Regions from separate parts of the Homo sapiens genome. Here region 2 is linked to region 1. The links come from fine-mapping of genetic effects on gene expression. A gene starts in region 1. The other region holds a variant in brackets. All regions are shown on one strand. Distances are between the middles of the regions.

What was found. PIP is the estimated chance that this variant, and not a neighbour inherited with it, causes the effect.
Region 2: its variant is the best candidate, but not a certain one, in a credible set for the expression of RNPC3 in whole blood (TOPMed, PIP 0.89).

Annotation. Positions count from the first base shown.
Region 1 is chr1:103,523,461-103,528,850 of GRCh38, reverse strand. RNPC3 (RNA binding region (RNP1, RRM) containing 3) reads right to left here and starts at 3,152. Exons shown (of 15, transcript NM_017619.4): 1 at 2,589-3,152; 2 at 1,109-1,156. The coding sequence starts at 2,780. It overlaps RNPC3-DT (RNPC3 divergent transcript), which reads left to right and starts at 3,343. Exons shown (of 4, transcript NR_168321.1): 1 at 3,343-3,455. It also overlaps the pseudogene RN7SKP285. RefSeq lists an enhancer at 2,701-2,940 and a silencer at 3,261-3,360.
Region 2 is chr1:103,562,277-103,567,666 of GRCh38, reverse strand. It overlaps a transcript of AMY2B not described here. Among named protein-coding and RNA genes, the nearest start is that of AMY2B, 6.6 kb to the left of the region's middle. The variant ACTGG/G (reference allele first, on the strand shown) is at 2,005.

The sequences.
Region 1 (5,390 bases):
ACACACTTCTCTTTGCATCAGTGATAATTTCCTTTCTAGTTCTCCTACTTTAACTGCTCCTTCCCATTCTTCTCTCCTAGCTTATTATCCTTTGGGCAAACATATCTATTCACATGGTTGAAGAATCTTTCCATTCTTCACCTTGCCTCAGCTCTCATTAATATTTTTAAATATTTCCATAAAAGTAGCCCAATGACCCCTCCAAGTTAACAGATGACAAGTGAATTCATCCTATGCCTTTGCAAACATCCTCTGGATCCTCATGTCAGCTAATATAACAACCCAAATAACTCAATCCTCAATCTAAATATCCTGAACTATTCTCTCTCAACCCCTATATTATAAAACCTACAAACTCAATCTCTATTGAATATATATTTACTTCCCCCTTTGTCTTCTTACTGTCTTCTTCAGATAGTTATTCTTGCCTTGGCCATTATAACAGCCTTCCATTTGGTCTCCTACCTCTAATAATTCTGCACATCCAATCCATGATATGAACTATACCAGATATCTTTAACAGGCCTGATCATATTATGAGCCAGCTCAAAAGTATCAAGTGTCCACCTACTAAACCAAACTCAATACCTCTCTCCCAGACTCAAATCTATTTTTCAAGTTCCATTTCCATCTCAACCCTTAGCTCCTGCTCCACTTATAACTTCCAATGTCTCACAGCTTTATTTGGTGTTCTGCAAGCCCAGAAGGCCCATCTCCACTTGTTTCCTTCTGAAAAAATCCAATTAATCATTAGACTTCTAGCTAAAAGATCACCTCCTGTGAATGATTCCCTGGCATTATAAAGAAATGTATATTCTCCTTTTAACACTTGAAACATCTTACCTTGTAACAGTCACAGAGATATTTATCAATCTAAATCATTTAGAAATTGTTATTTTAATTACATACGCAGTTAGTTTTTCTTTATAGATAATCTACTAAAGGACTGGGCAAGATCTGCCAACTGACAAATCAAATGTAGTCTGTTGGGGAAACTGTTGGAATACAAACGCTTTTGCTTCTTAAAAACCACAGTTAAACATTATCTGAACCAAGATTGTATAAGAGGATCCTGTTGACAACTTTAATCGTCAAGAAAAAGTCATACCTTTATAGCTGCTTTTTCATTAGGGAATGTGGCAAAAGCTGTATGTTTCTGAAACAGAGTTAAGGTACAAATTACTTCCAATATAATTTCAGTTTCTCACAAAGAAATCTGACTTTTTACCAGTGGAGTAATGTGACATGTTAATAAAATCACGGGAAAGGATGAAAACTCAAGACCATTTAACTGATTACTAATTTCAGTCCAGTGGTTTTCAATACTTTTTGAGTCAGACTTGAGATGAAAGCTATGCAACCTCTATCATATAAAGACACACGTTTTACACATGCAAATAGTTCAAAAGACCAAAAGTTTAAAGACCTGTTCTACACAGAGGGTCACTTTTAACCAACTAAAAATTTATTTCCTTCATTTATGACAGATCTAAAGATTTTAAACTTTCCTCTATACATAACAATGCGTAGTTTAAAAACATTCACCAACAGAGAAATCGTTCTTCAAGGTGCATATTTCCTTTGTGCTTTATCTTTGTAATAATGTTCAATGGGAGAAGTCTATTTTTAAACATAAATTATACGGATTTTAAAAACCATCAGAAAAGAAACACAAATCAACAGTAAAAGAATCACTATGCTAAGGAAGAGCTCTGGTCAATGCTTATTAAAAGTTACTTTAATAATTATATCGCACATTCTAATTTTGTCTAATCTGATACACGATGACCTGATGTACTTAAATTGAGCCATATATAATTTTTTTTTTTTAATTTGCAGGCATAAGTGACATTTAAACTGATCAAAATTGGTCTTTCTTCTAATTCAGTAACTCTCAACTTGGGCTGCACATTAACATTAAAATCACCTAGGGAAACTTTAAAACCACTGAGTCTTGCACCATCGCTATTCCTATTTTAATGAAGAGAAATCTAAAATATCTTTGGATATAAAGCAAAACAAAGTAATTGTGTAAATTCCTACACAGGTACTCTTAACAGCCCTAAAAAATTGTTCCCTAAAAGATGTCATCGGGAAATTTTTATGAAAAGCCTCTTTTTCTAGTTGAAATTCTGCATTTAATTTACGCAAGTCACCAATGTAGCTTCTCCTCTATTTTAATGAACGATTTAACATTGGCTTATAAATGAAGTAGGACTTTAAAAAATCCCTTGATGCACATTTGTAAGAATACTCTTGAGTCCAGGAGAAATAACCCCAAATTCAAAAAAGTTGTGAGGCTCTCAGGATGGATCCGAAAACTCAATATAACTAAGCTAATTTCCATTCTTCTGCTTTGTCGTTCTCACTTGCCCTTTTCTGCAGTGCTATGACTAATCCAGACTCGAGCCGATTAAAACTCCACTTCGCAGAGCAGATATTTTGATAAAAAAGAGGTAGGATGGGGGAGCTCTCATCACACAAGTCCATCTTCCCCACTCGTTTCCATTTTACTCTTGTCAGCGCTCCCCCTCCCCGGTCACTTCCCAAATGCCTTCCCGGGAGACTCCGGAGGGGCGCGCCCTTACCAGTCGCCCCTTATCTGACAGGACCCGCACAGACTGAGCCCCGAAGTACTTCAGCAAGTCCTCTTTCTCCTCAGCAGTAAGCTCAGCCGGCAGGTGCCTGACCAGAAGGGTTCGGTCGCCCCGAGGCGGGGAAAGCGAGGAGGAGCTCGTGCATCCCCTTGATATCGCAAGCGGCTGCTCGGGAGCTGCCATTTTCCTTGGAGAAGCAAAAACAGAAATCGTGGGAAGAAGTCTCAGTCAAAATCGCGGCATCAACACAAGCTGGGAGAAATATTTTTTCCGCCTCGCGCTAAGGATTCTGGAAACCAGGAAATACCGAGAAAGAAAGTCACCTTCTCGCGAGAACTGCGCCACCGAAAAGCGGCAACCCTTCGAAGACTCTTCGGGGAAGGGCGCGGTGCTAATGATTTAAATTCCAGGGGTCTCCGGAAAGACTTACAAGCAAAAATTGGCCCAGAGATGTGCGAGGGTTAACACAAGTTGTCAATCAAAGAAGGAAACAGGAACCCCAGCCACTTCAGGGAAAGAAGGTTGACGCTCAAGGACAAGAGGACTCACGACTGCGCATGTGCGGGCTGGGACCGTCACAGGGCGGGGCGGGGCGCACGGCGGGGCGGGGCGCACGGCGGGGCGGGGCGCACGGCGGGGCGGGGCGCACGGCGGGGCGGGGCGCACGGCGGGGCGGGGCGCACGGCGGGGCGGGGCGCACGGCGGGGCGGGGCGCACGGCGGGGCGGGGCGCACGGCGGGGCGGGGCGCACGGCGGCGAGCGCTATCTGGAGCTGACCGTGCGGCTCTTAATCCCTGGCCTTGGGAAAGTGAATTGGCCTGAATAGCAAGGAGGAGAACTTGGGTGTGGAAATACCGGGTATGTTCTTACAGTATTTAGATGGTAAAATATAAAGCTAGCCAGTTATTCTGTCAACTCATTAGACACCATTGTAGGGAGGAGAACTCAGTTTAAGGGGCAAAACGTTGAGAGTTCAGACTTTTTTCTTGAATCAGTAGGCATTTAGCAGACGGATAGGCCCCTGCCAGGGTTCATTTCGCAGAAATGGCAGCCTCTAGGGAGAGGTAACCTAATAAATAAATTATTGCATGTGTGTGTATGTGTGTGTGTGTAGGGGTGTGTGTGTGTGTGTGTGTGTATGTGTGTGTGTGTGTAGGTGTAGGTACTTTTCTCCCTATTTTACAGCTGAGGACACTGATGTACAAAGAGGTTAAATCACACAGCTAGAAAGTGGAAGAACTAAGTTTTGACCCTTGGTGTTCTGACTGGGGGTCTACATTCTAATCCACTGTTCTGCCTAGATTCTGAATGGAGTGAGGCAGGGATCATCCCCGGAGGGTCAGGAATGTACCCCTCACCCCATACAGAGAGGGCCTTGAGGATTCTAAAGAGAGGTTTTATGCTAGATGTAGCTGCTACAGTCTGGAGAACCAGAGTTCCTCTTACAGTTCTTTTTGCCACTTAAATAAATGTTAGAGATACAGCAGTAAGCAGTATACCAGCAATCTGCTGTCATCCCGCATTGGTTGGGGAAAAGGAGAGAGACAGATATTAATGAAAACTAGAAGACAAACATGAGAAGAACCTTCCCCACACACCCACCAAAATATCAGATAGGTAGAGCCAGACCACGTAGACGCTGTAGATTTGTTAGGAGCCCTTTTTATTTGAGGAACATTTAGAAACTGACAAATTCTTTAAGTAGGTGTGTGTTGAGGGGAGAGAATCAAAGTTTAGGTATGAAAATTTCTCCGGTTGCAATGCAAAAAACAGAAGCAGAAAGACCAGTTGGACTACTGTAGAAGTCTGGAGAAAAACACTACCATAATAGTTTGGTGAAAGTGGACATGTAGAGAAGGAACTGGAATTGAGATACGTTTTAGAAGTAGTTGATAGGAACTTGCAGATGAAGAATAGTAAGCAAGGATAAATTCTGGATTTTTGGCTTAAGCTAGATATTATCCATCTGTAGATGATGATGCCATTTACTGAATGTGAGAAGATTGACCAAGTATAGCTAGGTTAGAAACTGTAGTGGGACATTGGGAATAGAGGAACATATATTAAGTTTAAGGTATCTATTCAGTATCCCTGTTTCAAGTAGGAAGTTGAATGTGTGTGTTTGGCATTCTTGGGAAAGGTTACCACGAGGTATGGCATCAACCTATATGGTATTTATATCTGAAGAATGACAAAGGGTATAGATAGAATTGTGCCCATAATGGAGTCATGGGACATGCAGATGTTGAGAAGTTGAGGCAAGGAAGAAGAAGAAGACAATCAATTCCTGCCCTCTCAATGCTTACTTTCTAAAATCAAGACAGAATAAATATGTAAATAAAGTTCTTTTCAGAGAATAATAAGTGCTTTGGAAAAAATAGGGTAGTGTTATAAACCGATTGGAGTGGTCATGCTATTTTAAACACTATCCTTCAGCGGCTTTTTTGTGTGTGTTCTTTGAAGACTTGTTTGGAGCTTCTAGCAAGGGAGCACTGCTACACGTATGCCCTTACAGAAAAATCATCCTCCTTTATGGGGGTAAGTCATCCTCCTCAGCCGAGTGGGCAGCTTTGGAAGAGACATATATGGGGCAGTTAGGAAGGAAGGGGAACCCAGCTAGTTAGCCAGATCAGCCAAATCAACTGTTGGGATCAGTTGGTGACAGGTGTCATGCAAAATGACCGTCACATCCTCCCTGTGACTCTTATGTTTAGTAAAATGTTCCAGACATAGTGCACATTCTGTAAATATCTATTCAATGAATGAATGCATGAAGGAATTCACTTTTATATT
Region 2 (5,390 bases), 39 kb before region 1:
ACCCTGCTTCTGGGAAGAAACCAGATTATAGGAGGATAAGAGTGGAAAGGGGTAGATGTTAGAAGACTTTTACAGTGGTCCAGGAAAGAGGTGAGTGGCTTGGACTAGGGCATAGACAAGGTATATTTCAGAGGTAAACAGGCAGTAGATTTATGAATAGATTAGAGCTGAAGGATGAGGAAAAATATTAAAGATATAGGTATTTGGGGATGATACCATTTTTTAACATGAGACAAAATGAGGAAGTACCAGCTTTGACGAAGGGTATCAGGAGAGCTGTGGATCTTAACTATTCCACTGTCGATCCTGATGCTGCCCTTTGGTCCTTCCGCCAGCCAATCCTGTGAACTCTGTTCATTGCAAAACTAGAAGTTCCTCATATTTTATATGAAATATCATACCTTCATGAATTTCCTAGTGGTTTTGTTTCCCATATCATCCCCTTCCACATCCAACTTAGTGTGGAAGCAACTACTTTTCCTTCCACATTAAGTTGAAACCACAACTTTATGAAGCTTACCCTCATATTCTCAAGCATAGTTAGCTCCTCTGTTGTATGAAAGCTTCTTAATTTATATGACATTAAGCTATATTTGACTTCTTTTGTAAGTATATTATAATTAACAATTTACTTGTCTGTCATTCTGGACCAAGCTTCTTGAAGTTAGACTTCATATCTAGTATTTCCAAATCCTAGTAAAATGATTGACATTGTCTTATGTGCTCAATAAATGGCTATAACATGAAAACTCTAGGTTCCAGGTATTGTGCAAAACATTGGCATAACATGGGTTATGTCCTCATTGATTTTCTAAAAATCAATGAACTCTATATTAGAAATTGTGCAATAAACTTGACTCTAATCCTAGCAAAAGTGTTGTACACATGTTGGAACTAAGGCCCAGACAGACTGGGTAAATTGTCCAGGCTCATATGGTAAGTGACAAAGACAGGATTTGATAATAAGTCTGATTGCAAGTCAACATTCTCTGTACTACACTAATGTTTCTCCTAGAATTCTAGAGTTGTGATGTCTAATATGGTAGCCACTAGAAACAATTGGCTACTAACCAGTTGAAATGTATGTGGTTTCAACAGAGATGAGTAGTAAGTGTAAAACACACTCGGATAGTGTGAAAATAAAAAGTAAAAAAATATATTTTTATGATGTTTACAGGTTGAAATAACATACTGTGATACATTAGGCTAAACAGAATTTACCATTAATATTAATTTCCCTAGTGTCTTTTGGTTTCTTTTAATGCAGTTAGTAAAATACGTTAAATTACATATATGATTTACATTCTATTTGTATTAGACAGAGCTGTTCTAGAAGTTATGTTCAGTTAGAGAAGGGATATGTCCATACACAAAAACAAACAATAAAGTGAAAGATATGAACATAGTTTTAAGAGGGTTACGATTAAGTGCTTCAGGATTTAATTGGTAGGAAAAGTTCTTTCTGACAGATGGGAATAAGGGGAGATAAAATTGACTTGAAGAATGGGTTTGACATCAATGAAAAGAGATAGGTAAAATTGCTTTTAAGTAAGAAAAACATGTAGAAGAGCAAGGAAAATGGCAAGAAGTCAATACAGTGTTTTAGAAACAAGTCAAGTGTGAGGGAGACATGACAGTTAAATTTGGAAAGGTATATTGGGGACACTCAAAATCAGGGAGAAGAAAAAAGTACTTACCTCAGAAGGTTTTTTGGTTGTTTTAAACAGGAAAGTAATAATAAAAACTTTTAATTATATCAGATGGACCAGAAAACAAAGAGATAGGAACATTAGTAAGCAGAGCAGTGACAGAAATCTGAATTAGGATTACAGCAGTAAGAATGAAAATTAGGGAAGTGTGATAGTTATATTAAAGGGCATCCAATGAATGACACTTCCCAGTATCCATACCTATATAAAGTCTCTCTCTACAAAGACTATGGAATTAGCTTGATATTTGTTTTATCCGATGGGATATCAGCAAACAAGACACAAGCAAAGTTTG[ACTGG/G]GGTTTGCAGAAGGGAGTTTGATCTCTTGGAACTCTGAGATCATACATTGTGTTGTGAGCCTACCTGGGATGAAAGATCACTTGAAGTCTAGTTGTCCCTAGTCATTCCAACAACGTGAGTTGACTCGCCAGCTAATAGTAGTTGAGTGATGTGCCAGGAAAAAACATGGTGTATATAGTCAGCCCTCCATATCCATGGGTTCCACATCGCCAGATTCAACCAACTGTGGAAGAACATATTTTTAAAGAAGGATAGTTGCATCTGTACTGAACATATAGACTTTTCTGTCATTATTCCCTAAACAATGTAACTATCTGCATAGCATTTATATTACAGTAGATATTACATCTCTAGCAATATAGAGATGATTTAAAGTATACAGGAGGATGTGCATTGGTTATATGCAAATACTATGCTATTTTATATAAGGCACTTGAGCATCTGTAGATTTTGGTATCCATGGGAGGTCCTGGAACCAATCCCCCACAGATACTGGAGAGATGACTGCAAAAGGCTTGGTACTATCTGTGGTTTCAGGCACCTGCTGGGGGTCTTGGAACATATACCCCTGGAATAGAGGGGAAATGTTTATGTAAAACAGAGAGGGGAGATATAACAGACTTGGTGGAGACTGTACAGAAAATGGTGGTTAATCAGATATAAGAGAATAGAGAATATAAAGAGTCAAATGGGGACTCTGTGATTTAAACTTTGGGTGAATATTAGAATGGCAATGTCTTTATGACTGATAGTGCAATCTAAAGGCAGATTTGGTTTAGAGAAACCGATGAATATGGGGACATATTGAATTAGAGGTACCATTTTTAAAACAAATGGGTATATAAAAACAATTAAAAAAAGATATGAAGAAAGAAGCAGAGAATTGGTAGTTTTCAACAAAGCAATGACAGTCTAAGAAATGGAACAAAAAATACTTAACTGATTTAACACAGACACTGAACAGAACAGATGCTATCCCTAAGCAACTACTATACAGAGGGCAGTGTACACTGGCTGAATTATCAGGCCTGGAGAGTTGTACCCTTGAGGGCTGACAAAATACCAAAAAAGATATTGGATGAAGTCACCAAGCTTTATAAATGATGGGGTACAGGGAGTAGGAAGGAGATAATAAAGAGGTGCCTTCAAAGTAGCAAAGGGAGTTTTATTACCCGAGATGATTTTTAAAAGCAAATAGGGAAGGAAAATTTGCAGGGAGTACAACAAACTAACTGGATACGGGTGAGTATCAGAATTTAAATAGAAGACTGACTAGATAGTGATACAGGGCTGATGGTGTAAAGAGTTGACAGAGAAGAGGGGCACCATTTGAACTTCATGCTTGACTCAAGGTTCCAAATGTGAAAACGCAATTATTAGGAGTTAAGACAAACTATAAATCCTGACTTTTCCATTTATAACCTGTGTGATGCTGGAAAATAACTTCTCTAAATGTATCTATTAACTAGAAAAAGTAATGTTTACCTCATAGAGTTATTGTGATTAAACGAATAATGCAAATAAAGCTGTTATCCCAATGTATGGATATGGTAAAAGCTCAATATGGTTGATAATGTTATTTTTGTATTGATATTTTTACCTGGTCCTATTAAAAATCCTATCAACTCATACTGTCTTTCCGCCTTCGCTCTACTAACACTTGGCCATTCTGTCTTCCCATTCTACCCTTCTTAACTTCTAATACTTTCTACTTCTCAGAAGTATTTTCATTTCCAGTAAAGGAATGGACAGAGATGAAAAAGAATCACCAATATTTTCTACCTGCAATTTTTTCCTTCCTTCCCTCACAGTATTCTTCTTGCTTATTCGCTTAGGATTTCTGGCAGATCCATGGTAGTTTTGAAATATACTTTTCAACAATGCCAGATCAATGAACTCTGTTCTTGTAATAGCAAATCAGCATTTTTCACAATGCATTTGGAATGTTGGTAAAAAAAAAGGGATAATTTGCAGATATAATTTAGGGAATTTAGCACTGCATGAAAGGTAGAGTTAGACACACATATAATAAGCTTCTACTAAGAGTCAGGCATTATCATATATTTTCTCATTTGATCTTAATTTTCACCTCAAACAAGCAATCTGAAGAGCTATATACCCCATAGGAGAAGCATTAAAACAATTAAAGTATATTTATGTCTTCTGAAATAAAAATCTGCACAAACAATTCTTAGCATCTTCGGCATCAAAAACACAAAAATAAGGATTTAAAATAGTTGTTATATCTACTTTCTGAAATAGTTATTCTAAAAGAGTTATCCTTAGAGAAGCTATTCAGTTATTAGTAATATACGGCATTATTGCCCATATTTTGTACTTCCTAGAATGCTCTACAAAGAGAAAACTTCCCTTTACTCTAAAGCTCTAACGGTTACTATCATGTGCCAAATGACATATCTTGGGAATTCCCTAAGAATATGAAATAGGACATTTGATAATATCCTGACGACAAAGCAATAGTCACTAAAGATTTATATTTGGAGTGTCAAAACATATTCTCTCTTCTCATTTGGGCTCATATAAAAAATAAAATATATCCGGTATCAAGAATTAACTCAAAATTAGCCAGTTTCTGAGGGTCTCAAAAGTATTTTTTCAATCAATATCATATATGAGGTATCTATTTTGACATCCATAATATAAATGGCATTATAGGGAAACGGCTCTAGTGTAAACTCAGTATCCCTCTTGACACATCAAGTACCATAAATTTAATCATTTAGCTCAAAGCCTACTTAAATCACACCAAAGCCTTGACTTAAATAAAATGAAAGAGCTCTATTGTTAAGCAGAAAGTAGCAACTTCCAAATAACTTGTCTTTCTAGAGCTCCCTTTCTACTTATATAACTATCAGTTATTTACAAGTTCTTTCCCCCTATCCAAAGTAGCCTCACATTTATACCAGATATTATAGTTTTTTAACATGCAAATGAATTAACATTGACAAAAAAAAAAAAAAAAAAGACAAGTTATCTATTAATGTCATTCGTAGTTCTTAGCCTAGATGCCTTATAAATATCTTTGGAAGTAATTTAAGTGTGATTAAAAATTACAACTGAAATACCTTAATGTCACATTTATGAACTTGATCAAGTTAGTTGTTTCTCTTACTAAAAAATAAAGTCTTAATTCCTCTGAGTTTTGCAATAAATTAGGTACAATTTTCTCAAAATAGTAAACCTTCAACCACCAGCCCTTCCCCCAACAGTTTTCTGTTTTTCTTTTGAAAATAAAATAAGAAAGAAAATAAACCTGAACTCAGGATAAGTTGCAATGTAAAGGTTAGAGAAAAGAAAGCACAGATAATCAAGTTTGCCTAACAGATCTCTGAAATCAGAGAAACCTTTTGAGCCAAGGCT